Linked DNA regions of Homo sapiens. The protein of the gene in region 1 purifies or fractionates together with the protein of each later gene. This does not show direct contact. Each region holds a gene or a part of one and is shown in the gene's direction. Other genes may lie near its edges. The genes, in order: GMPS, MTAP, USP46, OAS1, COLGALT1, ZNF331 and PPA1.

Region 1 (4,244 bases):
TTTGTACATTGATTGGGCCTTGGCTGTGTGTATCTTAGTTCATAAATTAAAAGTTGGGCAAGAGCTGGTTTTGATTCCTGTTTCTGGTACATTTCAGTTATCAGGATTTTCTAAAACGGCGTTTTTGCATGATAGAAACTGGAGAGGGGCCTAAAAGCTATGAAAGCATTTGGGTTATTTTAATTATTTTTTATACACAATATTTTATTTAATTTTTAATTTATATTATTTTTTTGAGACAGGATCTTGCTCTGTCACCCAAGCTGGAGTGCAGTGGTGTGATCACAGCTCACTGCTGCCTTGACTTCTTTAGCCTCCTGAGTAGCTGGAAGTACAGGCGTGGATCACCCCGCCCTGCTAATTTTTATTTTTTGTAGAGACAGTTCTCGCTGTGTTGCTCAGGCTGGTCTGGAACTCCTGGGCTCAAGCTATCCTCCCACTTTAGCGTCCCAAAGTGCTGGGATTACAGTAGTGAGCCACTGTGCCTGGCCAGTATTTTATTTATTTAAATTTTTTATTTCCGTATGTTATTGGGGAGCAGGTGTCGTTAGGTTACATGAGTAAGTTCTTTTTTTTTTTTTTGAGATGGAGTCTAGCTCTGTCGCCCAGGCTGGAGTGCAGTGGTGTGATCTCGGCTCACTGCAAGCTCTGCCTCCTAGGTTCACGCAGTTCTCCTGCCTCAGCCTCCCAAGTAGCTGGAACTACAGGCGCCCGCCACCATGCCTAGCTAATTTTTTTGTATTTTTAGTAGAGACAGGGTTTCACTGTGTTAGCCAGGATGGTCTTGATCTCCTGGCCTCGTGATCCACCTGCCTCAGCCTCCCAAAGTGCTGGGATTACAGGCGTGAGCCACCATGCCCAGCCATGAGCAAATTCTTTAGTGGTGATTTGTGAGATTTTGGTGCACCCATCACCCGAACGGTATACACAACACCCAGTATGTAGTCTTTTATCCCTCACCCGCTTCCTACCCTTTCCCCCTGAGTCTCCAAAGTCCATTGTGTCATTCTTATGCCTTTGCATCCTCACAGCATAGGTGATCAGCTTTTCTTTAAAAACTTTTTATTATGGCAGGGGTGTATTTGACATAGTAACTTGAGTTTTATTAAGGCAGCATTATCAGAGTAATGCTTTGGGTGACTTGTCAAGTTTCCTACTCTTTTCCCCTGTCTAAGGGTGAAACTCTTGGTTGGAGTAAAGGTGGTACCTGTCCTATCATTGAGAGGTTATGACTAGGTTATATCATACTTGGATGAAAGATGTTTTATAAACTCTCCCTTAGTGATTGCATGTGATACAGAATCTTTAATGGCATTTAATAATGTTAATTTTAAGTTTGGAATTTCCAAATTTAAGATTTTGAATGGAATGGGAATATAACTTGGGATTTTTATCTGGGATGTACTGAGAATTAAACAACTATATCACCTTTTGTCACAACTTAGTAAATTTTTTTCTTAGATAAAAGTTAGATTTTTCAGATTTTATTCCGTTAGGATATTCATTTAGAGTGGAAGAACTGCTGCAGACAAAAGGAATGGTTTTTAGTGTAGTGTGTTCTTAGACCTGAAAGGTTTTGAAATTCCTCCAGGAATCTCGGATGACATTGCCTTTAGCGTGGGCCAACTTGTCACTTAAGGAAAATAATTCAGTCTTTTAAGAATTTTTACAAAAAGTATAGACTTGTCTTATACTTGTACAAATGTATTTGATACTTTTTTAAGGTTAATGAATTACATTCCAAAGGATGTTGTTTGAAGTAATGAATAATTATTTGCTACCCAGAATAATCAAATTTTGCTGTTGTAGTACATTCTTAAACTTTGTTTTCTTTTTTTTTTTTTTTTTTTTTTTTGAGACAGAGTCTGGCTCTGTTGCCCAGGCTGGAGTACAGTGGCATGATCTCGGCTCACTGCAATGTCCGCCTCCCTGGTTCAAGTGATCCTTGTGTGATCCTTGTACCTCAGCCACCCGAGTAGCTGGGATTACAGGCGTGTGCCACCACATACGGCTAATTTTATATTTTTAGTAGAGACAGGGTTTCACCATGTTGGCCAGGCTGGTCTCTAACCCTTGACCTCAAGTGAGTCGCTCACCTTGGCCTCCCAAAGTCGTGGGATTACAAGTGTGAACCACTGTGCCTGGCCTTAAATCCTGTGTTTTGTTTTGTTTGTTTTTGAGACAAAGTCTTGCTCTGTCACCCAGGCTGGAGTGCAGTGGCATGATCTCCCCTCATTGCAACCTCCGCCTCCCAGGCTCAAGGAATTCTCCTGACTCAGCCTCCTGAGTAGCTGGGACTAAATGCGCATGCCGCCGTGCCTGGCTAACTTTTGTATTTTTAGTAGAGATGGGGTTTCACCATGTTGCCCAGGCTGGTCTCGAACTCCTGGGCTCAGGTGATCCACCGGCCTCACCTCCCAAAGTGCTAAGATGATAGGCGTGAGCCATTGTGTCCGGCCCTGGCCTTAAACTTTGTTTTTATGCCTCTTTCTAACCTAAACCATATTTAGATGCTGAAAATGAATGAAAGTGTCAGGGTTAATGCATAATTCTGAAGCACTTTGTGAATCAACAGAAAAATAATTGTTTCATAGAATTTTAAATCTTTGTGTGGCATATACAATTCTGGGTTGCGTAGAATATTATTTTTTTCATGCTTATTGTGGAATAGAGATGCTTCTGTATTTGCTCAAGAAGGACGGTGGTTAAAAAAATTGCTTTATTATAGTAAAAACATAACAGTCAATTGGTTTTCTTGTTGGTGGACCCTTGCTATGGCTTCAGGTTCATGGTTTTGAGGACCTAGGAGATTATATAGTTAAGTCTATACACTCATTAAGATTGTTATAATGTGAAAGGGAATAAGATCTCTAAACTGGGGCACATGAGCATAAAAAAAGAAGGTGTGGAAAATTTAAATTTATAATAATTGCTGCAAAATAAAATATTACATACAAAAAAATTGTAGATTTACACAATACAATTAGTAAGTAAATGGCAAAACTCCTGTGGCAAGAGTGTTCAGATTACTGTCTTCTGTACATTATACACAGGGACATATAACATCTCTTTCCTGCATGTGTTACACAAATACCCCATATTTCCCAGTGACCCAGCTTATAATGGCCTCGAGGCTCCTGTGCATCTTGCAAGGTGAGGAGTGGCTGTAACACAACTGGGAGGTACACTGAGTAGCCGGCAGGAATAGCAACTTCAGATATTTCTCCTGTCATCACCCAAGACTAGATAGAGTTAGCTATCCTTAATTGCCTGTGTCCAAGAGTACTTGATTTTATTAGAAAAGAGTAAGGAAGGATGTGTTACCAGTATTTGGCATTCAGACTGAACGAGAAGTTAAAAATGAGAACTGTTTACTATGCTTGCAACCCACACAACACTAGACAAAGCCATAGCCGAAGGTGGTATTAGATATAAGGTGAAAGTTTAACAAACCCGTCCTATTTTACTTTAAGGCAGTTATTCATAGTATGTTGTTAAAAAGAAAAATCTGAGACAAATGTTAAGCTGGGTGGGATATCGGACTAACAGATGTACATCAGGAGAGTCCTGGGCAGACTGGACCATATGGTCACTCCATTTATAGAGCACATATTGTTCTGAGTTTGGCTCTGATTTCTCCCCAGTGATGTGTATTTAAAATTTGGCTAAAATTTAAGTCTAGTGTGTATACATTAGCATTATTTTTCTGAGTTAATTATATAATAAGAGTATTATTCTAAAATTCTTGAAAACTGAGTGTCATTAATTACCTGTGTTTTAAAAGTGGTGTGAGCCAGCAGCACTGAACCTGACCCTAAGGTAAAATAATCTTCTCTAGTCTGCCATAACACTTGCAAGGGATGTTTCCCAAACCTTTAAAGCTGCCTGGACATGTGAAGTTTTCTGTTTAGTTACTCCCGTTTGTCACTGGAAAAACAGTAACCTTTTAATCTCAAAACTCACAGCGGTCCATGTAAATTTAATTTCTACCTCATTTGCAATTTGGAGAACGAGTCTCAGTAATTCTTCTGAATCCTATTATGAATGTAAATTTAGGACTCCAGATTTCTAAAATTCTGCTTTGGACAAATTTTGGATCAACGATCTCTGATTAATTTGGGAAATTTTAGATGAACAAAAGTACCTGTAGATATATCATTATTTTGATGTTATTGGTAGCAGTAGAACTTCATTATACTTATTATTTGGCAAGCAAATTAAAAGAAATTTTAGTCAACATCCAT
Region 2 (3,717 bases), on another chromosome or scaffold:
AAGTACAGTTCTCTCCAACTTGCAGAGGTACTTTTCTTGATTAAATAGCCTTCTCTAGCAACATCATTTTCAGACTAACTAAATGAATGCAGTATACTCTTTTCTTTGTTCTCAATCATTCACTCCTTATGCAAAGCCAATATAATTTTCCTCATACCTTATGCTTGAGGATATTGTTGAAGAACACTTCCTGGAACACTTCTCACTTGTGATGCTGTACTAATTTTTTTTTTTTAATTTAAGCTAGTATACTAAGTGAACACCATGGTCAGTTGTGAGCATTTTGGTTTCCGCAAAGGATGGATGGTGAGCATCATGGGAAAGCTGTAGTTTAGTGACTTAGCCCTTAGTGATTAATAGATTTGCATGTACATAGAAGTCTTTGTTGGCCTTATAATCTGCTGTTATATTTGGCATGGATTTTCATGGTTTTGAGAATGACATCCTGGCCCTGTGGTCCCCGAGGGTCATGGTCCTTGTGACCTGGCCCCTGTTCACTGCCCCCTTCGCTAGCACGAGTTGCTGTGCAGGGCTGGAGGTAGCTACCATGGCTTGTTTCAAGGAAGGAAACTCTGGTACGGTGGCACCCTCAGGAGTGGAGGACAGTGAACTTCCTTGAAGAGGGAGTGACTAAGGTGACCTCCAACCTGCCCTGAGCCAGCTGCCCTGCAGGTGCCACGTGAGCCTGCTCTGGCATCCACAGGATGCTCCTGGAGCCTCTTCTCTGGCTGCTACCTCAGGGCATGGTTGTGGCCCCACCAACACCTATTTTCCAAATAATTATTCATTCTTGTGACAGTGGCCTGAACATGTTTTTAATTTTCTCAACAAGCATTTAGCCAGCACTTATCCAGTGAAACAATTTGATAAGGTTTCAAGGAGTATCTGATGGGTTAGGAAGTCACGAAATGAGGAGTTCTTGCCACATTTGCAGAGTCCCTCCTTGATAAGGTTTGGCGGTGTCCCCACCCAAATCTCATGTTGAATTGTAGTTCCCATAATCCCCACATGTTGTGGGAGGGACCCAGTGGGAGGTAATTAAATCATGGGGGTGGTTACCCCCACACTGCTGTTCTCATGATACTGAGTTCTCACAAGTCCTGTTTGTTTTATAAGGGGCTTTTCCCCCTTTTGCTCAACACTTCTTCCTGCCATCATGTGAAGAAGGACGTGTTTGTTTCCCCTTCTGCCACGATTGTAAGTTTCCTGAGGCCTTCCCAGCTATGTGGAACTGTGAGTTAATTAAACCTCTTTCCTTTATAAATTACCCAGTCATGGGCAGTCCTTTACAGCAGCATGAGAATGGACTAATACACTCCTCAAATGTTTTGAAGATTGTTGCACCTTGGAACTACCAGTGTGCACACAATCTGGCTCAATGTATATATTGGCCCAGCAAGGCAAAGAACTGAAGTTCCAGGATGGAAGAACCTGTGTTCTCCTCATAATAGTATAGAATAATTCAAGATAGGCAAGAAGGACAGCAGTAAATGAAGACCATGGAAGAAAAGAAGGAATGCCAAAGATCGAGGAAATCTACCAAGACTAGTAGGGTAGTCCAGAAGAAGCTGTTTCAGGGCCTGTTGCCAGCTATGCCTTTGAGAACCTCGGGATCCCAAAGAATGAGGGGAATTTCTTCAGAAAGACAATCTCGGCATGCATTATTTCTTTGTTTTGAAGATTCACTCATGTTGCATGCATCTGTAGCTTGTGCCTTTTTTATTGCCTAGTAGTATTCTGTCATATGCCTATCTTACAATTTGATTATCTATTCACCTGTTGATGAATGTTTGAATTTTTTCCATTTGAGGAATTTTATGAATAAAGCTGCTATAAGCATGAAATTACAAGTCTTTTTGTGAACATATTTTCACTTGTGCAAATGCCTATACTCCCACCAGTAATTTGTAAGAATTCTTGACAAAGCTTGGTATTGTCAGCGTTTTTAATTTTAGCCATTCTATTGGGTATATTTTGATATCTCGTGGTTTTGATTTGCATTTTTCTGATTAAAGATGTTGAACTTCTTTTCATGTGCTTATTGGCCATTCACATATTTCGTGAACTATCTGTACAAATATTTTTGTTTATTAAAAAATTAGATTGTTTTGTTTTATTATTGAATAGTAAGAATTGTTTATATATTCTGGATACACTCTTTTTCAGATATGTGTGTTGTGACTATTCTTAGTCTTTAGCTTGCCTTTTCATTTTCTTAATTATGTCTTTCAAAGAACAAGTTTTTCATTTTGACGAAGCCTAGTTTATCAATTTTTTTTATGGTTGGTGCTTTTTGTGTGTTCCAAGAAATCTTTGCCTACTCATTTAATTACCTGTGTGCCCTTGTCAAAATCATTTAATTTTGACTACTCACTTAATTACCTTGCCTACTCATTTAATTACCTGTGTGCCCTTGTCAAAATTTACTGTTTATCTGTGAATCTGGATGATCTATTTATGTCATTTATCTATGTGTCTCTTCTTATGCCAGTACCCCACTGTCTTGATTATTGTGGCTTTATGGTGTCTTGAAATTAAGTATTGTTAAGCTTTGCAATCTTTTCCAAGATTGTTTTGGCTATAGGTCCTTTCTTTATAAAGTTTATATTAAGCTTCTCCATTTTTCTTTAAGAAAAAATCTGCTGGAATGGCACTGAATTTTTAGGTCGATTTGGGAAGAATTGACAATATTGAACCTTTCAATCGATGGACATGGTATGTTTCTGCATTTATTTGGGCCTTTTAAAATTTATCTCAGCAATATTTTGTAGTTTTAGTGAAGAAGTCTTGTATATATCTTTTGTTAAATGTATTCCTAAATATTTTGTGGAAATGTTACTGTAAATAGTACTTTAATTTCATTTTTAAGTTTATTGCTGGTATACAGAAATATGTTTTATTTTTGTATATTGACTTTATATTCTGTAATCTTATTAAATTCACTTAGTTCAGTAGTAGTTCTTATTTTTATTTTATTGCAAGTGCCTTAGGGATACCTTGTGTACACAATCATGTCATATATGAATAACAACAGTTTACCTTTTGTTTCTTCTTGCTTTGTCGTAATGGCTAGGACCTTCAACCTAATGTTGAATAGAAGCGGTGTGTGAGTTGTTACTCTTGTCTTATTCTCAACAGCAGAGGATAGCGTCTAGTTTTTCACTATTAAAATATGTTAGCTATAGGTTTTTTCCGTTTCATGTTTTTATCAGATTGAAGATCCCTTTTATTCCTATTTTGCCAAGAGTGTCATGAATGCATGTTGAATTTCACCAAGTACTTTTTCCTGCATCTGTTGAGAGAATCTTGACTTTTCTCTTTTATTTTGTTAATGTAGATTCTTTAATGTTAAACTGATCTTGCATTCCTGATATAAACCATACTTAGTCATGATATGTTATCCCCTTTATATAATGCTGGATTCGGTTTGCAAATATTTTGTTTGATTTTTGCATCTATGCTCATGAGACAGATTGGTCTGTGATTTTCCTTTCTTGTAAGTCTTGTCAGGTGTCAGGGCTTGGTTAATTTTGACACATTTACAAACATATATTTTTAAGATAAAAATAAACTTCAAAAAAAAAAAGATGACGACAGCCTGAGTTGTTTATATACAGAATTTGTTAACCAAAAAGATTGAAAAAGGCTGGAACAGCAGGTTACATTTGATACCTGAAAATATTTTGCAGCTATAAATGCATCTTGGAACTGTTATAG
Region 3 (3,586 bases), on another chromosome or scaffold:
GGGTTCACACCACTCCCTGCCCCAGAAGGAGGGCAGGCACAGGTCCATGCCATGTGGCCTCAGTGAAGCCTACAGTAACTATGGGTAGGGCTGCTTTTCCCTGTCAATCACCCAGGGCACCTGTGGGTGGACAGAAGATTGTCATCGGAATACATGCTTGGGCCCAATTATGGGAATAAAACCTCATAGACCAAGAGCAGGGAATGTGCCAGTAAGTGTTGAGTCTCCCAGCTGCTGTCCATCTTCTCGGGGCAGTGCAGTTGAACCTGACTGAGCTGGAACAGAGACTGTTGGGAAGGTCACTTCTGTCTGCCACGAAGGCCAAAGGCAGAGAAGACCTTCTTGGGACTGTGTTTTTCTTTCCTAGGCCTCACTTTGTCCTGGGATTTATAGGACAGGCCTGTCACTACCAAGGTGACACAAATTCTAGAGAATGTATTTTCCCATTTCTTCAAATTTCCTTTCCTCTCTTTTTATTGATACTTAAAATACCTTTACTAAAAAAATGAAGCCTTCCATTTCCATTCCCTTATATTTACATGAAGATAAAAATACTTACTAAGTCGTTGTATTTGTCCATTCTGGCAGTGCTATAAAGACATACCTGAGCGTGGGTCATTTCTGAAGAAAAGAGGTTTAATTGGCTCATGGTTTTATGGGCTGTACAGGCTTCTGTTCTGGGGGAGGCCTCAGGAAACTTACAATCAGCAGAAGGCAAAGGGAAAGCAAGCCCATCTTACATGGCAGGAGCAAGAGGAAGAGAGCAAAGGGGGAGGGGTTACACACTTTTCTTTCCTTTTTTTTTTTTAAGATGGAGTCTCACTGTCACCCAGGCTGGAGTGCAGTGATGAGATCTCAGCTCACTGCAACCTCTGCCTCCCGAGTTCAAGCGATTCTTCTGCCTCAGCCTCCCAAGTAGCTGGGACTACAGGCATGTGCCACTATACCCGGGTAATTTTTGTATTTTCAGTAGATACAAAGTTTTCTCATATTGGCCAAGCTGGTCTGGAACTCCTGACTTCAGGTGCCTCAGCCTCCCAAAGTGCTGGGATTACAGGCAAGAGCCACCTTGCTCGGCTGGGGTTACACACTTTTAAACAACCAGATCTCGTGAGAACTCAGTCATGAGGCAGTACTAGGGGGATGGTGCTTAACCACCTATGATGCAATCACCTCCCACCAGGCCCCACCTCCAACACTGGGGATTACAATTCAACATGGGATTTGGGTGGAGACACAGAGCCAAACCGTATCAGTCATTTTTCTTTTACTGAAGGAAAATTTTGGTTGTGGGGTTAGTACTAAAGATAGCCCATGTAGACTTTTTCTGAAGATACCCCAAGTGGAGAGATTTTTAATTAGGCATTTATTTGGCACCTATTGCATTCTAGGCATTGTGATAGGAGCTGGGGGATAAAAAGGTGACACAGATTGGGTCCCTCTTATGGACTCGTTTTTTGTCTCAGAAGACAAGTCTGGGTGAGAAAGAAATTTAAAATTTAAGTTGTGGAAATAACACGTGTGGGGGAAACTCCTTGCAATTCAGCACAGTTTGGTATTCAGCCCCAGCCTCAACATGCAGATGGCACTGTTGGATGAAGCCACACCATCTTTTTTCCTGGGAGCCCCACACTCTTCCCAGCCTGCCTTCTAGCTCAGGGACAACACATTTTGAAAAACAAAGTATAAATCGATTATGTTGCAACAATGAACTTCACGTTTTGCCTCTTCTCATGTTAAAAGAGCCAGTATCATGAAAGCCTCAACAGTGAGCTTTATGAATCAAATATCTGTTATTTCTAAACAATCTGTTTACATTATGACCAAATAATTAGAGCCTATCTAGACTTACCAAAATAAGATAGGGCATAAGCGATTTATTGGTGCATCAGCCTTTGTTTGCTTTTTAAGGTTCCTTTATGTTTTAAAGGGATTTGAACAAAAGACATCAGGAGCTTACAAAGGAAAAATAGCTTCATTTTGGTTATGAGATACCAGAGTCAGAAATGACATTAGATTGTATAGAAAAGACTTCTAATTGTGTGCTTACTTCCCACATGATTATAATAAACTATATATTAACAACCTTGGGATCGTACTCAGGTTGTCAATTACACGGATGCATCTTTCACTTTTTTCTTTCCCAAGAGTGAGAGAAAGAGTGAGGTTGTGCTTAAGGCAGTGTGGAATTCTACAGAAGCTCTTCTTGGAAAAGGAGTTCAGGCACTTGTGTTGTAGACTGCAGTCTGATTCTGTTCTTACTTCCTCTCAGCATAAGGGAGCTTTGAAAAGAAAACTCAGACTTGTATCCGACTTGACCAGAAGCAAAATAACTTGATCATTGAAGCCACTATTTCTGTGTATTTGATCAAGTCCTCCTCTGGAATCCAATGCAGCCATATTCATATTTCGGTCTCTCTTAATGGACCTTGCTGGAAAGAACATTCTGTGCTAAGAAAATGGAAAATAAACGTGAGAAAACTTTAAGAATGAGCCTTCACACCTCCTGCAGCAGGTGATAGCTCTGTACTTCAGAGCTTGTCTCCAGGTTGAGAATTACCTGTTTTCCACTCTGAGGGGATTAGAAAGATACTGTTTTAATGGGTTATAAAACTTGTGTGAAGAAGATTGGCCTTCTCCACCTCTCCTGTGAAATAAATTGTTTGAAAACTCTTTGAAGAGAAATGGCTTCAGTATATTGTTCTATCTCTGCTACCCCAAAGCCCAGAGAACAAATATTAAGTATAAATTGCTAGGCTAGGTATGTCATATGTGGCAGCTTTGACATGTAAACCAAAAGACTGAGCCAAGTCTCAATCAATGTACAGGTTATTTTGCCAAGGTTGAAGACACACTAGGGAAAAGAGACACAAGCTACAGTATGATCTATGGCCCCTACTTTCTCCAAAGAGGATTTTGAGGGCTTCAGTATTTAAAGGGGAAAAGTAGGCAGGAGGAGAAAGGAGGAAAGAACAAAAAAAAGAGGGAGAGCATGGTCACATTCTTAGGAGGCTTTGATTCACACTCACTGAATCCATGTGTTGCACGTGGCAAGGAATGGGTAGAGGAACAGTCGATTATGTATGTCCCCTGCTCAGTAAAACTGCACTTTACAAAAGATAAACAGAATAGGGGAAGAAGTCAAATATGCATTTATCTCAGGCTGGGCAGTGGGGATGGTTTGTACTCTCCTCTTGTCCCATACTTGGGGAGGCCACCTGGGGAGACATGGCCTCTTGTAGCTATCTGTTTAGGAACAAAAGGAAAGACAGTGTTCTGTGACCCAGCTTCCAAGCTTAACTTTTCCCTTTGGTATAGTGAGTTTGGGGTCCCAAGATGTTCTTTTCCTTTCACAGATGTATGACACTTCAGCAGAAGGGTGAAGGCTGTAGAAGGGAGAGAAAACCCTCTTCCTGTATGGCTATTGATTGACTTTGACTTTTAACTGATTATGTCATCTGAGGAGTCTGTGAAGGTTTATGAAGAATGAATTCACCATACAACCTCCCCTCAGATGGAAATGTGTACATAATGTAGAAGAATAAGGGGCTGTGAGTTTCGGGGGTAAGAGGAGGGGAATAAAGTT
Region 4 (4,244 bases), on another chromosome or scaffold:
GTGGTGGTACATGCCTGTGGTCGCAGTTATTCAGGACGCTGAGACTGAACGATCACATGAGGCCAGCCAAGGATTCGAGGTGTCAGTGAGCCACGAATGTACCACTGCACTCCATCCTAGGCACAGAGCAAGAGCAAGACCCTGTCTCAATCAATCAGTCAATCAGTCAAAACTATGAATTTCCCAGCTGTATATGAAGGCACCTCAAAACACCACAGTGAACTCACAGAGGGACACGGAATAGTTTAGATTTTAATTTTTTGAGGGAAATGCGATGACATCTGTCACACACCGCACAAACGGCTACTATTAAACTGAACTTACTGATTAGTGGCTACTAATTAATAGTTGGTCATTAAGCAGTAATTAGTGATTAATTATCAAGTAATTAGGACTTAATTAAAGGAACTGTCACAGTTTCCTTTAGTCCTAGGGCAGCCATGAAAAAAAAAATGCTGACTCTCCAAAGACACCAGGGTATGAGAAAGTTTTGGATTCTCTCCTTTGTGCCATCTCCTGTGTTGGGGGCTGAAGTACAATGGTTGTAAAAGACAAGAGGGAGAAGGCTGGTCACAGTGGCTCACGCCTGTAATCTCAGCACTTTGGGAGGCCAAAGTGGGGGGATCACTTGAAGTCAGGAATTCAAGACCAGCCTGGCCAACATGGTGAAATCTCACATCTACTAAAAATACAAAAATTAGCTGGGCGTGGTGGTGTGTGCCTGTAATCACAGCTACTCGGGAGGCTGAGGCAGGAGAATTGCTTGAACCCAGGAGATGGAGGTTGCAATGAGCCAAGATCATGCCATTGCACTCCAGCCTGGGCAACAGAGTGAGACTCCATCTCGAAAAAAAGAAAAAAGAAAAGAATATAAGGAGTGATTAAAAAAGAAAAGAAAAGAAAACTAAGTAGGGTGAAACAATAGATAGCCATGGGGGTTAGGGAGCTTTTTTAGACAGGGTCGTGAGGGAGGGTCCCTGAGCCTGAGTGGCGAGAAGGAGTGAGCCTTGGGGAGATCTGGAGGTTCTGGGAAGAGGAATGGCAAGTGCAGAGGCCCTGAAGCAGCAATGACCATGGCACATTTGAGGAAGAGAGAAAAAGTCAGAGAAGTAGAAAGTGGGCAAAGGAAGCAAGACAGGAGGTGAGGTGGGAGAGGTTCCAGAGACCAGATCACACCAGACATCATTGGCCACCATAAGATCTTTGGGTTTTAAAATTCCAGATGTTATGGGATGCAGGAAGCAGCATGATCAGCAGCATTCTCTAGGTGCCAGGTTGAGAACAGGCTGTGGGGGAACCTGTAAAGAGGTTGCTGCCATAGTTCCGGCGAGTGACGGTGGTGGCTTGGATGGGGTGATGGCAGTGGAGAGGGCAGGAGGGAGGATCAGGAATGGACCTCAAGACTTCCCAGCCCTGGGTCTGCTGCACTTTTCAATCAAACCCCATGGCCAGGGAGATTGTCCCCTCAGAGTGACTGAAGGAAATTCAGAGAAGAGCTGACACCTAAGTTGTAGATTTTGCCCGAACAGGTCAGTTGACTGGCGGCTATAAACCTAACCCCCAAATCTATGTCAAGCTCATCGAGGAGTGCACCGACCTGCAGAAAGAGGGCGAGTTCTCCACCTGCTTCACAGAACTACAGAGAGACTTCCTGAAGCAGCGCCCCACCAAGCTCAAGAGCCTCATCCGCCTAGTCAAGCACTGGTACCAAAATGTATGGCCCTCCCACCAGGCCTGGTGGGTCCTGTCTCGACTGGGAGCAGAGGAGGGGTGGGGGGAGGAGAGAAAGAAGGGAGTGAAGGGAAGAGGAGGGGGAGTGGTGGAGGGAAATAGAGGGATGGAAAAAGGAGAGAAAGGAAAAAGAGGTGGAGAGAGGAGCCTGCAACAGAAGGGAGAATGAAAGGGAAGGAAGAGAGAAAGGAAGGGATTTTGGTGTTCTGTTCACTGCTGTATCCCCAGAACTTAAAACAGAGCCTGGTGCATAATAGGTGTAAATAACTGTTGAATAAATGAATCAATGCTACATACACACACGCACGCACACACACACAGAGAGAGAGTCAACCACACTCTTCAGAAGGTGGATAAGTTAAAACAAGAGTTTCAAACAAATATATGTTCAGATGCCCTTTCCTCCCACTTACTGGCTGGCTGGCCTTAAGTAAGCAACTTAACCTTTCTGTTCTTTCTGCTTTCTTATCTGCAACGAGTAGCATGCCATAGCTAGAGTAACACGGCATATAGTTGGTCCTGATAAATGTAGCATATTTTAGCCACCATAGGAGTACACATAATAAAAGCTAACATGTAGTATGTGCTTAGCTTATCTATGTTTTGTGGATGTGATACAATTTTCTGTTCACTTTTAAATGCCCTGCATCTTAGTCAATTTTAACAGTGATTCTGTAAGTTAGATAAGGTTAGGCATTATTATTAAATCCATTTTACACCAAGAGAAACTTGGGTCAAAAAGAGAAACTCCTGGGTCACATGGCTCATTCGGCCAATAAGTAGCAGAAGTAAAATTTGAATTTGGCTGGGCGCGGTAGCTCACACCAGTAATCCCAGCACTTTGGGAAGCCAAGGCAGGTAGATTGCTTGAGCCCAGGAGTTCAAGACTAGCCTGAGCAACATGGCAAAACCTCGTCTCTACAAAATAAACTAAAAATTTAGCCAGGTGTGATGGTGAGCACCTGTAGCCCCAGCTACTGGGTAGGCTGAGGTGGGAGGATCGCTTGAGCCTGGGAGGAGGAGGTTGCAGTAAGTCAGGATTGCACTACTGCCCTCCAGCCTGTGAGACAGAGCAAGATCTTCTCTCAAACAAACAAACAAACAAACAAACAAAAACTCGAATTTGGGTCTATTGACTTAAGAGTTTGCCTGATAATAATAGGCATTCAATGTATATTTCTTGAATGAACGAATGAATGAAAATAATCAGGAATAAACTTTCCAATTTAAAAGTAACACCTCTAGGTAAAAAAAAGACAATCATTTAGTTGCCAGACTTCTAAGTGTTTGCTGTTCTATGAATTGTAATCATGGAGCCTGAGCATTGTAGAATTTACAAAAGCAGTTCCTGACAAAAGCAGCACTGCCCCCAGGGACATATTGAAAATTAATGAGGGTGTTTTTGGTAACCATGGTGATGGGAGGACATGGGTGCTACTTATATTTAGTGGAAAGAAGACAAGAATGCTAGTTATTGTACAATGATCAAGAGAGTCCTGCACAGCCAAGAATTGTCTTTTTCTTTCTTTCTTGATGCTGTTCTCCTTTAAAACAAGACAAGATTAACAATAATTTAACTCCACTAACCACCATCATCACCACCTCCAACTTATATGCTACATTTCTTGTATATTTCAAGTCTGTTTATATTTTCAAGTGCCTCGAAGTATTATTGTTTTATAGCCAAATGTTTAGTTAATCTGCTCACAGATTTACCACTTTCTTCACTATTCATTCTGTCTTACACCTCTAACATTCCATCTGGGGTAATTTTCCTAAATGATCATGCATCCTTTGGGATTTCTTTTGATGATGGTCTATTGGTAGTAAACTCTCTCAGTTATTGTTTGTCTGAAAATGTCATGCTTTTGCCTTCATTGTTGAAGGGTGCTTTTGCTGGGTGGTCATTTCAGTATATTGAATATATCATTCCATCTTCCAGTGTCATCATTAAAAAGTCAGTTGCCAGTCTAACTGCAGCTCTTTTATAAGTAACCTGTCTTATTCTTCTGGCTGCATGTAAAAGTTTTCTCTTTGTCTTTGATTTTGTTTAGCTTCAATCTGCTGTGTCTTAATGATGGGTTCCTATTGTTTGTCCTGATTGGGATTCCGTTAAGATTCCTGAATCTGTGGGTAGATATCTTTAATCAGTTTTGAAACTTCTCAGCCATTCTTCTAAAATATTGATTCTCCTTCATTCTCTCCTCACCTTCTAGAATTCCAATTAAATGTATGTTAGACCCTGCTCTATCTTTCATATCTCTATACTCTCTTCTGTGTTTTTCATCCTTTTGTCTATTTTTCCATGCTTTATTCTGAATAGTTCCTTCTAATCTACCTTCCAATTAACTAATTTTCTCTTTAGCTATATCTAATTTGCTGTAATTAATTACAGTTGCCATTTTTATCCTAAAATTTCTATTTCATATTTTTGTATCTGCCATGGTACTTCTTATGGCTTTTAATTCCCTGCTAACTATTTAAAGTTCTTATTTTATCCTGTGAATATGATA
Region 5 (4,244 bases), on another chromosome or scaffold:
TTTTTGTATTTTTAGTGGGGACAGGGTTTCAGTATGTTGGCCAGGCTGGTCTCGAACTCCTGACCTCATGATCTGCCCACCTCAGCCTCCCAAAGTGCTGGGATTACAGGCATGAACCACTGTGCCCGGCCTTCTTTTTTGCTTTTTTTGGAGATGGAGTCTCTGTCACCCAGGCTGGAGTGCAGTGTCACCATCATAGCTCGCTGCAGCCTTGAACTCCTGGGCAATCCTTCTGCCTCAGCCTCCCAAGGAGCTACAGATTTCCCCTTTTAAAAGCACACAAGCCATGTGGATTAGGGCCCACCCTAATGACCTCATTTTAACTCGATGACCTCTGTACACAACCCTGTGTCCAAATAGGATCATATCCTGGGGTACTGGTGGTTGGCACTGGGGAGACACAGTTCACCCCATGACATAGTGCATGATCTCATGACATCTCTTTGTGAAACCTCTCAGTGGCTTATTGGCCCATTTTATAGATGAGGAAAGCTGAGGCCCAGGCCAATCAAGAATATACAGCATGCCATCATTTCTTGGTTCATTCTACAAGCAATTACTGAGTGCCTGCTGTGTGCCAAGCCCCTGTGTTGGGCACTAGGGGCCCAGTGTGAGCAGACATACCTGGTGTCCTTCCCAAAGGGCTCACAACAGACAGGCACAGGGCCAGGGGGTTAGGGCAGCAAGGATGCGAGCTTTGGTGGTGCAAGTCCAGGTGCTGCTGGGGCCCAGAGGAGGTGCCTGGCTCAGCCTAGGGAGGTGGGAGTGGGGAGGGTGACCCCCATGCCCAGGGCATCATAGCTGAGAAGTAACGTTACAGAGCAGGGAAAGGAAGGGTATTTCAAGCAGGGATCCAGCATGTGCAAAGGCCCTGAGGTAGGAATGGGGGTTCTTTGGGTTGGCAGGGGCATAGAGGTGGGGCTGGGGGGTAGAGTGAAGCTGGAGCATGGGGCGTGGCCAGGGCTTAGAGGCAGGGTTGGGGGCGGAGTGAAGCTGGAGCCCAGGGCGTGGCCACGGCTGAGAGTCGGGGCTGGGAGCAGGGTGAAGCTGGGGCCTGGGGTGTGACCAGGACTTAGAAGCGGGGCTGGGGGTCGGAGCGAAGCTGTTGCATGGCCAGGGTTTAAAGGTGGGGCTGGGGGGGTGCAGGGTGAAGTTGGAGCCTGGGGCATGGCCAGGGCTTAGAGGCAAGGCTGGGGGAGGCTGTGGGGTGAAGCTGGGGCCTGGGGCGTGGCCAGGGCTGAGTGGTGCGGCTGGGGGGCAGGTTGAAGCTGTAGCCTGGGGTGTGGCCAGGGCTTAGAGGCGGGGCTAAGGGCAGGGTGAGGCTGGGACCTGGGGCGAGTCCAGGGTTGAGTAGCGGGGCCTTGGGCGCGGTGAAGCTGGGGCCTGGGGTGTGGCCAGGGCTGAGAGGCAGGACTGGGGGCGGGGTGAAGCTGGGGCCTGGGGTGTGGCCAGGGCTTTGGGCTGCTGTGCAGGGTTCAAATGACATGGGAGGGGCTCCTAGAGGGCAGCGCTGATGTGGGCGGAGCCAGGTCGACTTTGTGGGCCGAGCCAGTCTGACTGGGAGCCATGGAGTGGGTGGGGAAAGCGTGTTGGAGAGAGGCTGGAGGCTCCTTACCCCAGCGACTCCTCAACGTCTGTGCCCCACAGTGAAGCACCCGCCCGCAGAGCCCTCCCGCTTCATCTCGGCTCCCACCAAGACACCGGACAAGATGGGCTTCGACGAGGTGAGCTGGGCCTTCCCTGGAGGCGGGGCGGGGGCTGGAGGGCCCTTGTTTGCAGGGGCTGATCTGGCTGGGGACTCTCCGGGCTGCAGGTCTTCATGATCAACCTGAGGCGGCGGCAGGACCGGCGGGAGCGCATGCTGCGGGCGCTGCAGGCACAGGAGATCGAGTGCCGGCTGGTGGAGGCCGTGGACGGCAAGTGAGTCCGAGGCCTGGGGGTGGGGGGGCGGGTCCGCACGTGGATGTGGGTGTAGACCTCGCTGGTAGACGGCAAGTGATTCAGATGGGGGCGGGCGTGGTGTCCAAACAGATGTAGACCTCGTCAGTGGGCGTCCTGAAGGGGAAGTGAATGGGACCCTGGGGAAGGGGCAGATCCTCACAGTTGTAGACCATGGAAGGCAAGTGAGTCCTGACCCAGGGGAATGGGTAGGTTTGCATGCTGCCAGTGTAGACTGGTGGGGACTGTGGAGGGGTAAGTCAGTCAGACCCCAGGAGAGGAGGAGAGCAGGTTTGCCCGCGAGTGTATACCATGTGCAGGTGAGTGAGGCCCCATGTGCCCGGAAGGGGTGCCAGTGCTACAAGAGGTGGACCAGCTGCTCAACGCCGCAGGGGGTGGTGGAATGGCCGGGGATGGCAGAATGGCAGGCAGGGTGAACCTTCTTCGTGACCCTCTCCTCCTCCTCTCCAGAGCCATGAACACCAGCCAGGTGGAGGCGCTGGGGATCCAGATGCTGCCTGGCTACCGGGACCCCTACCACGGCCGGCCCCTCACCAAGGGTGAGCTGGGCTGCTTCCTGAGCCACTACAACATCTGGAAGGAGGTGTGTCCTGAGTGATGGGCGGGGCCAGAGTTATGACTCTAGATCTCATCGGAGATTTGGACGGGAAAGGGGTTGAAAGAGTTCCCCAAAGCCCCGGCTAGGCATCCAGCCTCAGCCATGGGACCCATGGCCTCTCTTTAGTGAATGATGCGCCACACCAGCTGTATCACCCCCAGGTGTACCTGCCATCCTTCCATTGCGCAAATGTGGAAACTGAGCCTGGGGGTAGGGGTGAGCCCTTTTGAGCAGCAGGTGGTGTCTGGGGCCTGGGACCTGTAAACAAATCCTCATTACTCCCAGCCTGGTCTCTGTGCTTGATGTTTAGTACTAGAAGTCATGGCCACAGAGCCACTTTAAACCAGCACCTGCCCAGTGCTGCTGGGGGCACTCACCAGCCCAGGCATCCTCATCCACCCTCAGAGGGAGAGGCTGTGATTGGAGGAGGGTGTCTGACTAGGCTTCGAACTTGGGCCATCAGGGCCGGGCATGGTGGCGCACACCTGTGGTCCCAACTATTTGGGAGGCTAAAGTGGGAGAGTGGCTTGAGCCCAGGAGTTAAGGCTGCAGTCAGCCAAGATCGTGCCACTGCACTGCAGACTGGACAGCAGAGCAAAACCGTGTCTCAGAAAAAAGAAAAATGGCTGGGCGTGGTGGCTCATGCCTGTAATCTCAGCACTTTGGGAGGCCGAGGCAGGCGGATCACCTTAGGTCAGGAGTTCAAGACCAGCCTGGCCAACATGGTGAAACCTAGACTCTACTAAAAATACAAAAATTATCTGGGTGTGGTGGTGGGCACCTGTAATCCCTCTACTTGGGAGACTGAGGCAGGAGAATCACTTGAACCCAGGAGGCAGAGGTTGCAGTGGGCTGAAATCATGCCATTGCACTCCAGCCTGGGCGACAAGAGTGACACTCCATCTCAAAAAAAGAAAAATAAAATCCGGGCGTAGTGGCACATGCCTGTAATCCCAGCTGCTCAGGAGGCTGAGGCAGAATTACTTGAACCTGGGAGGCGGAGGTTGCAGTTGAGATCGTTCCACTGCACTCCAGCCTGGGCGACAGGGCGAGACTCCGTCTCAAAAAAAAAAAAAAAGAAAAAGAAAAGAAAAACTTGTTATCGAATGTGAAGCCAAATGGGGGTGTGCGGCTGCAAGGCGGGAGGTGCATGAGGCGTGGGCATTTGAGGGGCTGGGAGGCCTTTCTCTTCTGAGATCCATTATGGACGGCAGAGGGCAGAGGTTTGGATGTCCAGATGTCCCTGGAGCTAGGAGAGGCAGGGAGATGCACTGGCTTCTCTACGGGTCTTTCAAACCTTCTCAAAGCAAAGCTCTGTGCTTTAGGGTCAGGCCTGGCCTTGGCCTCCCTGTGATGTGGCGGGGCTTCCTCCCTCAGGTGGTGGACCGGGGGCTGCAGAAATCGCTTGTGTTTGAGGATGACCTGCGTTTTGAGATCTTCTTCAAGAGACGTCTGATGAACCTCATGCGGGATGTGGAGCGGGAGGGCCTGGACTGGGACCTCATGTGAGTGGGGGTCTGAGGATGGGGTGAAGCTGGGGCCTGGGGCAAGGCCAGGACTTAGAGGTGGGGGTGGGGGCAGGGTGGAGCTGGGACCTGGGGATGGGTCATGGCTTAGAGGCGGGGCTTGAAGGTGGGGTGGAACTGGAGCCTAGGTACATGGCCAGGGCTTAGAGGTGGGGCTGGGA
Region 6 (4,244 bases), on another chromosome or scaffold:
TAGCCGGGCGAGGTAGTGGGCACCTGTAGTCCCAGCTACTCGGGAGGCTGAGGCAGGAGAATGGCGTGAACCCAGGAGACAGAGCTTGCAGTGAGCCGAGATCACGCCACTGCACTCCAGCCTGGGCGACAGAGCAAGACTCCGTCTCAAAAAAAAAAAAAAAGAATCAATATTGTTAGTATTCCATGCCATCATATAGCAGACCATAATTTAACCCATCCTCTACTGTGAGATACTGCTATTTTTTTCGTTGTTGAAACTGTATTCTCTGGAAATCATAGATAAGATCAAGGAGGGAATCTGTGTCACTATCCTGGCTGTGATACTGTACTGCAGTTTTGTTTTTCTTTTTTTTGAGACGGAGTCTTTCTCTGTCACCCAGGCTGGAGTGCAGTGGCACAATCTCAGCTCACTGCAACCTCCACCTTCTGGGTTCAAGCAATTCTCCTGCCTCAGCCTCCTGAGTAGCGGGGATTACAGGCTCCCACCACCATAGCCAGCTAATTTTTGTATTTTTAGTAGAGACGGGGTTTCACCATGTTGGCCAGGCTGGTGTCGAATTTGTGATCTGCCTGCCTTGGCCTCCAAAAGTGCTGGGATTACAGGCATGAGCCACCATGCCCGGCCTGTACTGTAGTTTTATAAGGTATCACTACTGGTGTAAGTCAGGTTAAGGGTGCACTGGATCTCTCTGTATTATTATTTACAACTACATGTGAATCTACAGTTATCTCAGTTTTTTAGAAAAATAACTTACCTAGAAAAAAATTTTTCTTGATCGCTCTTTCACATACATTTATGTACTTCTGTTTTCTTGTCTTTCTAACTGTTTCCTCCTCCTGGACCCATAAATTCCACATGTGGAATTTTGAGTCAAAATTAGATGTTTGTTAAGGGCCCGCACTATGCCACACCCTGTGACGTTAGTACTTGGAATGAGAGCGTGACTAACGGGGCATAACTGCTGCCTGCACATTGTTTACAATCCAGCAAGCAAGGGGCACCGAACAGCAGCTCGGGCAGCCTGTGCTGTGGCCTGCAGAGAATTCCAGGTGACGCCCCAGAGGGCCTAGGAGAGGATACCCTTCTGAGAACAGCCGTGGCTCGCCCGGCATCACCCCACTCAAGAGGCCAGACGGGGTCCCAGCTGGGGTGACACAGCGCCAGTCACATCCACTCATGGACACTCAGTAGGCCACACTCCCGATCACCCAGCCACAGTCCTAGATCAGTCACTGACTCACAGTCTGCCACTTGTATTTCCATTGTCTCTGGGCTTCCTCTGCCTTCACCTTCCAACAGTGTGGTACCTGCCTGAGAGCAGCGGCCCCCAGTGGGACATGAGAGCCAGGACCCTGTCATTAACTGAACCAACACAAAGGGCACAGCCATTGTCATAGATAAGTGTTCAAGCCGGACGTGTTCTCCGTACCGGCTCCTGTGTCACAGTAACGGGAAGCCTCAGGAGTGGGAGTCCTTGTGGAGGGAGAGGTGACTAACTTGGTAGGTGAGTGTCGGGAGCATCACGTGTTCTAGAATCCAGTAAATACACGTTAGTCCCCAAGAACTCTGAAACTCACAAATGCCAGTGTCCTCTCCATTCGGATTGGTTTCGGCTGTGGCCTGGGGACAGGCGTGCCCTGGAGGGTATTTGCTAATGCAGCCTGTGCTCCAGAAAGACCCTAGGTTCTCATTCTTCCTTTCCCCTAGGCTGGCATCCTTCAGAAAAAGCATCCTGAGGGGGAAAAAAAAAAAAAAAAAAAAATTATTATTTAGGTTGGTGCAAAAGTAATTGCGGTTTTTGCCATTATGTCTAATGTCAATTGCTTTTGCACTGACCTAATATTATATATCTGAAAGTCGGCTCTCCACATGAGTTACCTTTTTTGTTCATTAAATGATTTGTGTTTATATGACTTAGGACTCTTTACTCTTTATGGCCCCAAATATCCTCCCTAATAGCAATTTATCCCAGTAATTCCTCCCCAGGGGATGTGGCAAGGGCCAGGCAGGTATATTCCTCTCTGTACCCCCTGGTTGACCAGCCCTCTCCTTTGAGTATCCACAAACCCATTTGTCAAATTGTTGACATCCTGCTGTGTGCTCTGGTTTTCTAAGATCTGATGGTATAGAAAAATCCCCCCTAAAAAAAAAAAAAACAACTCCCTCCTAGAGGTTCATGTTAGCGCGCTTTATTTTACAGTGTGCTTGGGTAAGGAGGGGATTCGTTTTTAGGTGGAGTCAAACACAGATATCTTTGGTCTTTTCCATGGGACTGATTTTTAGAGCACAAGAAAAGAGAAAGTTAGTTTGTTTAGTCTGTACCTGGCAAAGTTGTCAGTTTTGTGAGGCCTTTAAGAGCGGAGTTTGAGCTAATTTCTGTGTCATCAAAGGCAGAGATGTTTTTCAATATGCAGTAAATCGAAATTTGTTCTATTCACTTGGACTTCTTTGGGCGGACAGCTTCTGTTTTTCTTCAGTTCCCCGTTTGTGTGAACTGTGAGAAACCATATGGTTTAATGTTGAGTATGAGTTCTGGATCTAGGGCAGAGGTTGGCAGCTGTCTTCAATGGCAATTTGTGTATGTTTATGGTCTACAGAGGCTTTGATCTGTGTTTATACTGCAGATTAAATCAAGCTGATTAACATATCCCTCCCTCAACTCACTGATAATCATATTTGCAATGAGAACATTTAAATCTAGTCTCTTGGCATATTCAATATTATTCATTATATTTAGTCACCATGCTAGACAATAAATCTCCAGAAATTATTCCCACTTTATCTCCTTTAATCTTCTCATTCCCCATCACCCTCCCAGGCCCTGACGACCACCTCTCTTCTTCTGTGAGTTGGATTTTTTTTACACTCCACATGTAATGACATCATGCAGGATTTGTCTGTCTAGCTTATTTCACTTAGTACAATGTCCTCCAGATTTACCCATGTTGTCACAATAACAGGATTTCCTTCTTTATAAAGGCTGGATGGCATTGCATTGTGTTATCTCTACCACACTTTCTTTATTAATTCCTGATGAGTATGTAGGTTGATTCCTTATCTTGGCTACTGTGAATAATGCTACTGCAGTGAACACGGGAGCACAGGTATCGCCATGACATACTAATTTCATTTTCTTTGGATATATACCCAGAGTGGGATTGCTGCGTCATCTGATAGTTTTAGTTTTTTCAGGCATCTCCACGGTGTTTTCCATCATGGCTAATTTACATTCTAACCAACAGTGTATAAGGGTCCTCTTTTCCTCACAGCCTTGCCAACATGTTATTTTTTTTGTTTGTTTTTTAATAAAAGCCATTCTTACATGTATGAGGTGATATCTCATTGTGGTTTAACTTTTTGTTGCCCTGAATAATAGTAGTGATCCTGAGCAATTTTTCACAGACCTATAGCAATTTGTATGTGTTCTATCAAGAAATGGCTGTTCAAGTTTTCTGCCCATTTATTATCAGGGTTGTTTGGTTTTTTGCTGTTAAGTTGTTTGAGTTCTATGTTTTGTCATTTTTGTTTGTTTTTTTTTGTTTGTTTTCTAGACAGGGTCTTGCTCTGTCATCCAGGCTGGAGTGCAGTGGTGCAATGACAGTTCACTGCATCCTCCACCTCCTGGACCCAAGCAATCCTCCTACCTCAGCCTCCCAAGTAGCTGGGACTACAGGCACATGCCATCATGCCCGGCTAATTTTTCTTTTCTTTTCTTTTCTTTTTTTTTGAGATGGAGTCTCCCTCTGTCACCCAGGCTGGAGTGCAGTGGCGTGATCTCGGCTCACTGCAACCTCCGCCTCCCGGGTTCAAGCGATTCTCCTGCCTCAGCCTCCGAGTAGCTGGGATTACAGGCGCGTGCCACCACGCCCGGCTAATTTTTTTTTTGTATTTTTAGTAGAGACAGGGTTTCACCCTGTTAGCCAGGATGGTCTCGATCTCCTGACCTCATGATCCACTTGCCTCAGCCTCCCAAAGTGCTGGGATTACAGGTGTGAGCCACGGTGCCCGGCCAATGCCCGACTAATTTTTCAATTTTTTGTAGATATGGGGTCTCACCATGTTGCCCAGGCTGATCTTAAACTCCTGGGCTCAAGCAGTCCTCCCATCTCGGCCTTCCAAAGTTCTGGGATTACAGGTGTGAGCCACCATGCCAAGCCCTATTTTGGATATTAACCCCTTATCAGATATATGGTTTGAAATAGTCTCTCCCAATCCATAGGCTACCTTTTCATTTTGTTTCC
Region 7 (4,244 bases), on another chromosome or scaffold:
ATATAATATATATAAAAATTATATATATATGCACATACACGCACACACACACACATATATACATATACACACACACACAATTAGCTGGATGTGGTGGCATGCATCTGTAGCTCCAGCTACTCAGGAGGCTGAGATGGGAAGATTGCTTGAGCCAGGGTGGTTGAGGCTTCAGTGAGTCAAGCTCATACCACTGCACTCCAGCCTAGGTGGCAGAGTGAGACCTTGTCTCAAAAAAAAAAAAAAAAAGTACTTTTTATAAGCATAATTGCAGGCCAGGTGCGGTGGCTTACACCTGTAATCCCAGCACTTTGGGAGGCTGAGGCGGGTGGATCACCTGAGGTCAGGAGTTTGAGACCAGCCTGGCCAACATGGCGAAACTCCATCTCTACTAAAAATACAAAAATTAGCCAGGTGTAGTGGCACGCCCCTGTGTTATCCCAGCTACTCAGGAGGCTGAGACAGTAGAATCACTTGAACTCAGGAGGCAGAGGTTGCAGTGAGCCAAGATTGTGCCACTGCACTCCAGCCTGGGTGACAGAAAACAGTAATTGCAGATTTAGCTTCATCTGTGCCCTTTGTAGAGGCTAAAAACTGAAAAACTGCAGTTAAAGTTCTATTCCGTGAAAAAAAATAGTATTCTGAATAATTAAAGCTCAAGTTTAATTAAATAACCTATGGCATATTTAACTCCAGTGTGCAAAATGGGTTGGCAAAGTATGGTTTGTTTTTTCATTGTGTTTTTAAACTGCACATCTGGGAATTTACTCCCTGAATATATCATCTATTTTATAGTAGTCAGTTTAAGGCTATAAGCCAATTACAGTAGAACTATCATTGATTAAAATATTTTTAAAGCATATTCTCTTATCTTCAAGGTCAAAGTCCTTTTCAGGGGGGCTTTATTTCTAAAAACAGCCGAATTGGGAGAATAATGTGGATAATGAAGCTGATGAGTTTTGTTTGATGCTAAAACTAAAGTATGACCAAGTAATTAGGCTGATGTGGGGTTCGTCTTATAAACTAAAGTATGATCAAGTAATTAGTCTGACTTGGGGTTTGTCTTATAAACTGTCTCTGAAATAGAAGCTCCAAAAACATTTTGAGTAATTGCAGTGTCTCTGAAGGAAATAACACTGGCCTTTGGAGAGTGTTTTGAAGATGGTCTTCTTCAGAGATACAGGTTCTGTTACGTTTATTTAAGAACTGTTTCCTTCCTAGGAACATTCTTTCCACTGTCAGCTTTTATTCTGAAACACTTAAAGCATACAGAAAAGTTAAAAGATTTATATAGTAAGTTGGCTGGGCAAGATGGCTCACACCTGTAATCCTAGCACTTTGGGAGGTGGAGGCAGGAGGATCACTTGAGGCCAGGAGTTTGAGACCAGCCTGGGCAACACAGTAAGACCTTGCCTCTATAAAAAATTTAGAAGTAAATAAAAATTAAGAAGAACTATACCGTAAGCAATCATATACTGACCACCTTGATTCTATAATGAATATTTTCCTATAATTGCATTATTTCTTCATCCATCATTCTCTTTTTTTGATGCATTTTGTTGAAAATCCAATTGACTTCAAAGATCTGATACAATGAACAGTTTGACTTTGGAAGAAATAGTGCATGCTCCCTCAGAGAACAAATTGGCTCCTGTGACCATCTCACTTTCTCTTTGTTTTTTCAGGATGTGTTTCACATGGTAGTTGAAGTACCACGCTGGTCTAATGCAAAAATGGAGGTAATATTTCACCTTACATTTGAGTCAGACTTAGGATATTGGTTTTGATCTAGTCACACTGACTTGATCAAGGATGAACCATCTGAACGTCAAGGTTTTTCTCTGTCTGGTCCCAGTCTATTTTCTAGTTGTATCTCCCATTGCCTACTAGTCTTCCCTTTGGGCTCCAGCTAAACTCAACTGTTTACAAATATGCCCCAAACTTTTCTTCCCAACATCTTTGCTTCCAATGTTCCCAAAGCCTAGAATTACTTTTTCTCCTCTTACTCTCTGTAAGCCCTTCACTGACCCCTCCTTAGTCACCCCAGCCACAGATACTCTCATTGGAATTTCAGTTGCATGGTGTTAGTTTCTTTCTGATGATACCTACCATCATTGCCTTTTTGTTATGGATATTTATAACATATTTTATATCACAAACTCTTAACAGTAATCACTTTTTTTGTGTAATAAATACCCAAGTATTTGAATAATTTTAAATTCTGTGAAGGAAAACTAAAATTGGATAATATTTATTTTGCCCTTTTAATAAAAATTGTGGTATTTTTATTACTCAAACATTAGAATTTATTCCAGCTAATTTTAGTCTTTGCTTTCTAGAATTAGTAAATGTTCTTTTTCCCTTCTTGATAGTTCCTTTATACCTCACATAACCTTTCACTTAATGGCCGATTATGGAAACACCTTAGTTCAATTATAAAAGTGTTAGGGATAAAATATATCATTAAAGTGGAATTAGGGAACATAGGTACCATAATTCATTTCCTCAGATCCTTATTTGAATAGTATTTCACATCCAAATATGCAAAGATTTGAAATTTTCTTATTTCAGATTGCTACAAAGGACCCTTTAAACCCTATTAAACAAGATGTGAAAAAAGGAAAACTTCGCTATGTTGCGAATTTGTTCCCGTATAAAGGATATATCTGGAACTATGGTGCCATCCCTCAGGTATGTCTTCATGCAACTGCTGACAATGTACTTTTTAGCTTACTAAATATTAATTTACTGCTATTAGTAAAAAAGGTTTGAATACCTGTGGAGAGTTTTTTCTATGGTAGATTTTGAAAACATAAGAAGGGATAATTAACTCAGAATGCTTCCTTAAATAACTTATTTTCAAGATAAACTAAATATTTACAATGTTTAAATTCAGATTTGAACGTTTATTCTTTCCTGAAATATTTCTTCTTTTTTGGACTGGTTATAAGCTATATAAATTCTCTACAGACTGAGTTGCAAGTCTGTTCAGTCAAGAAAGAGTGTATGGTAGTAGTCAAAAGCACTGATTTTTGGCACCAGACAGACCAGAGTTCAAATCCCAAGATGGCCAATTCCTAGCTTACCTAACTTGCCTCCCTTTCTTTCTCCTTGAGACGTCCATATCGCCTCCCTGAGCTATTCACAGTATGTAGGTGGTATGGTTATTTCAAAAAATAAAGCACTTAATACCTGCACACAACAAGCTGTCATAGCTGCTGACTTTATGTTTAGAGTTTTGATTCCCTCTTCTTCAGGTCAAGCTCTTTGTGGTAAAGTAATGAGAGGATCATGTTTTCTTAAGTAGTCAACCTTTTTTTTTTTTAATTAAAAAAATTTTTTTTTGAGATGGAGTCTTGCTTTGTCACCCGGGCTGGAGTGCAGTGGCGTGATCTCGGCTCACTGCAAAAGCTCCGTCTCCCAGGTTCACGCCATTCTCCTGCCTCAGCCTCCCAAGTAGCTGGGACTACAGGTGTCCACCACCTAATTTTTTGCAGTTTAGTGGAGACGGGGTTCACTGTGTTAGCCAGATGGTCTCGATCTCCTGACCTGTGATCCGCCTGCCTTGGCCTCCCAAAGTGCTGGGATTACAGGTGTGAGCCACCATGTCTGGCCTAATAGTCAACCTTTTGAGAAGGGTTGTTTACCAATTTATTCCCAGCACAATGTCAGTATGTAGTAGGTTCTTATTTGATATTTGAAGAATCACTAGGATCTTATCTATAATGAGTAAATGACATCTATTTAATTCTATTTTGGCTAGGCCAGTGCTGTGGCACTTAAAATTTAATGCTGAGACACTAACTAAATATTCAGTTTAATTTTTTTGCTGTTGATAAATGGTTTGTTTTTATTAACAATGAAGTCTGTTAAATGGAACGTACTATGAAACAACCCATAAGATAGTAGAACATAGGTCTGACCCATCTAGCTTGTTAGGTAAGCACAAAGTCATTTGTTTGTCTTAATTACAGTGTTTCACCTTATACTTTAATTGAAATTTTTTTTTTTTTTTTGAGACGGAGTCTTGCACTGTCGCCCGGGCTGGAGTGCGGTGGCGCAGTCTTGGCTCACTGCATCTTCTGCCTCTCAGGTTCGAGTGATTCTCTTGTCTCAGCCTCTTGTGTAGCTGGGATTACAGGCGCCTACCACCACGCCCAGCTAATTTTTTGTATTTTTATTAGAGACAGGGTTTCACTGTATTGGCCAGGCTGGTCTCAAACTCCTGACCTTGTGATCTGCCTGCC

What was found.
Region 2: the proteins of GMPS (region 1) and MTAP fractionate together in Homo sapiens (co-fractionation; one large-scale study listed by BioGRID). This does not show direct contact.
Region 3: the proteins of GMPS (region 1) and USP46 purify together in Homo sapiens (co-immunoprecipitation; one large-scale study listed by IntAct). This does not show direct contact.
Region 4: the proteins of GMPS (region 1) and OAS1 purify together in Homo sapiens (co-immunoprecipitation; one large-scale study listed by IntAct). This does not show direct contact.
Region 5: the proteins of GMPS (region 1) and COLGALT1 fractionate together in Homo sapiens (co-fractionation; one large-scale study listed by BioGRID). This does not show direct contact.
Region 6: the proteins of GMPS (region 1) and ZNF331 purify together in Homo sapiens (co-immunoprecipitation; one large-scale study listed by IntAct). This does not show direct contact.
Region 7: the proteins of GMPS (region 1) and PPA1 fractionate together in Homo sapiens (co-fractionation; one large-scale study listed by BioGRID). This does not show direct contact.

The regions. Positions count from the first base shown.
Region 1 is NC_000003.12:155,873,071-155,877,314, forward strand, and holds part of GMPS (GMP synthase [glutamine-hydrolyzing]), read left to right. Parts: intron 1-4,244. UniProt on the Homo sapiens protein: Catalyzes the conversion of xanthine monophosphate (XMP) to GMP in the presence of glutamine and ATP through an adenyl-XMP intermediate.
Region 2 is NC_000009.12:21,864,128-21,867,844, forward strand, and holds the end of MTAP (S-methyl-5'-thioadenosine phosphorylase), read left to right. Parts: 3' UTR 1-2,954; downstream 2,955-3,717. UniProt on the Homo sapiens protein: Catalyzes the reversible phosphorylation of S-methyl-5'-thioadenosine (MTA) to adenine and 5-methylthioribose-1-phosphate. Involved in the breakdown of MTA, a major by-product of polyamine biosynthesis.
Region 3 is NC_000004.12:52,590,059-52,593,644, reverse strand, and holds the end of USP46 (ubiquitin carboxyl-terminal hydrolase 46), read left to right. Parts: 3' UTR 1-2,685; downstream 2,686-3,586. UniProt on the Homo sapiens protein: Deubiquitinating enzyme that plays a role in behavior, possibly by regulating GABA action. May act by mediating the deubiquitination of GAD1/GAD67.
Region 4 is NC_000012.12:112,909,522-112,913,765, forward strand, and holds part of OAS1 (2'-5'-oligoadenylate synthase 1), read left to right. Parts: intron 1-1,529; coding exon 1,530-1,714; coding exon of another isoform or gene 1,715-1,737; intron 1,738-4,244.
Region 5 is NC_000019.10:17,575,548-17,579,791, forward strand, and holds part of COLGALT1 (procollagen galactosyltransferase 1 precursor), read left to right. Parts: intron 1-1,647; coding exon 1,648-1,724; intron 1,725-1,813; coding exon 1,814-1,920; intron 1,921-2,409; coding exon 2,410-2,542; intron 2,543-3,934; coding exon 3,935-4,062; intron 4,063-4,244. UniProt on the Homo sapiens protein: Beta-galactosyltransferase that transfers beta-galactose to hydroxylysine residues of type I collagen. By acting on collagen glycosylation, facilitates the formation of collagen triple helix. Also involved in the biosynthesis of collagen type IV.
Region 6 is NC_000019.10:53,544,397-53,548,640, forward strand, and holds part of ZNF331 (zinc finger protein 331), read left to right. Parts: intron 1-4,244. UniProt on the Homo sapiens protein: May be involved in transcriptional regulation. May play a role in spermatogenesis.
Region 7 is NC_000010.11:70,216,256-70,220,499, reverse strand, and holds part of PPA1 (inorganic pyrophosphatase), read left to right. Parts: intron 1-1,682; coding exon 1,683-1,736; intron 1,737-2,568; coding exon 2,569-2,688; intron 2,689-4,244.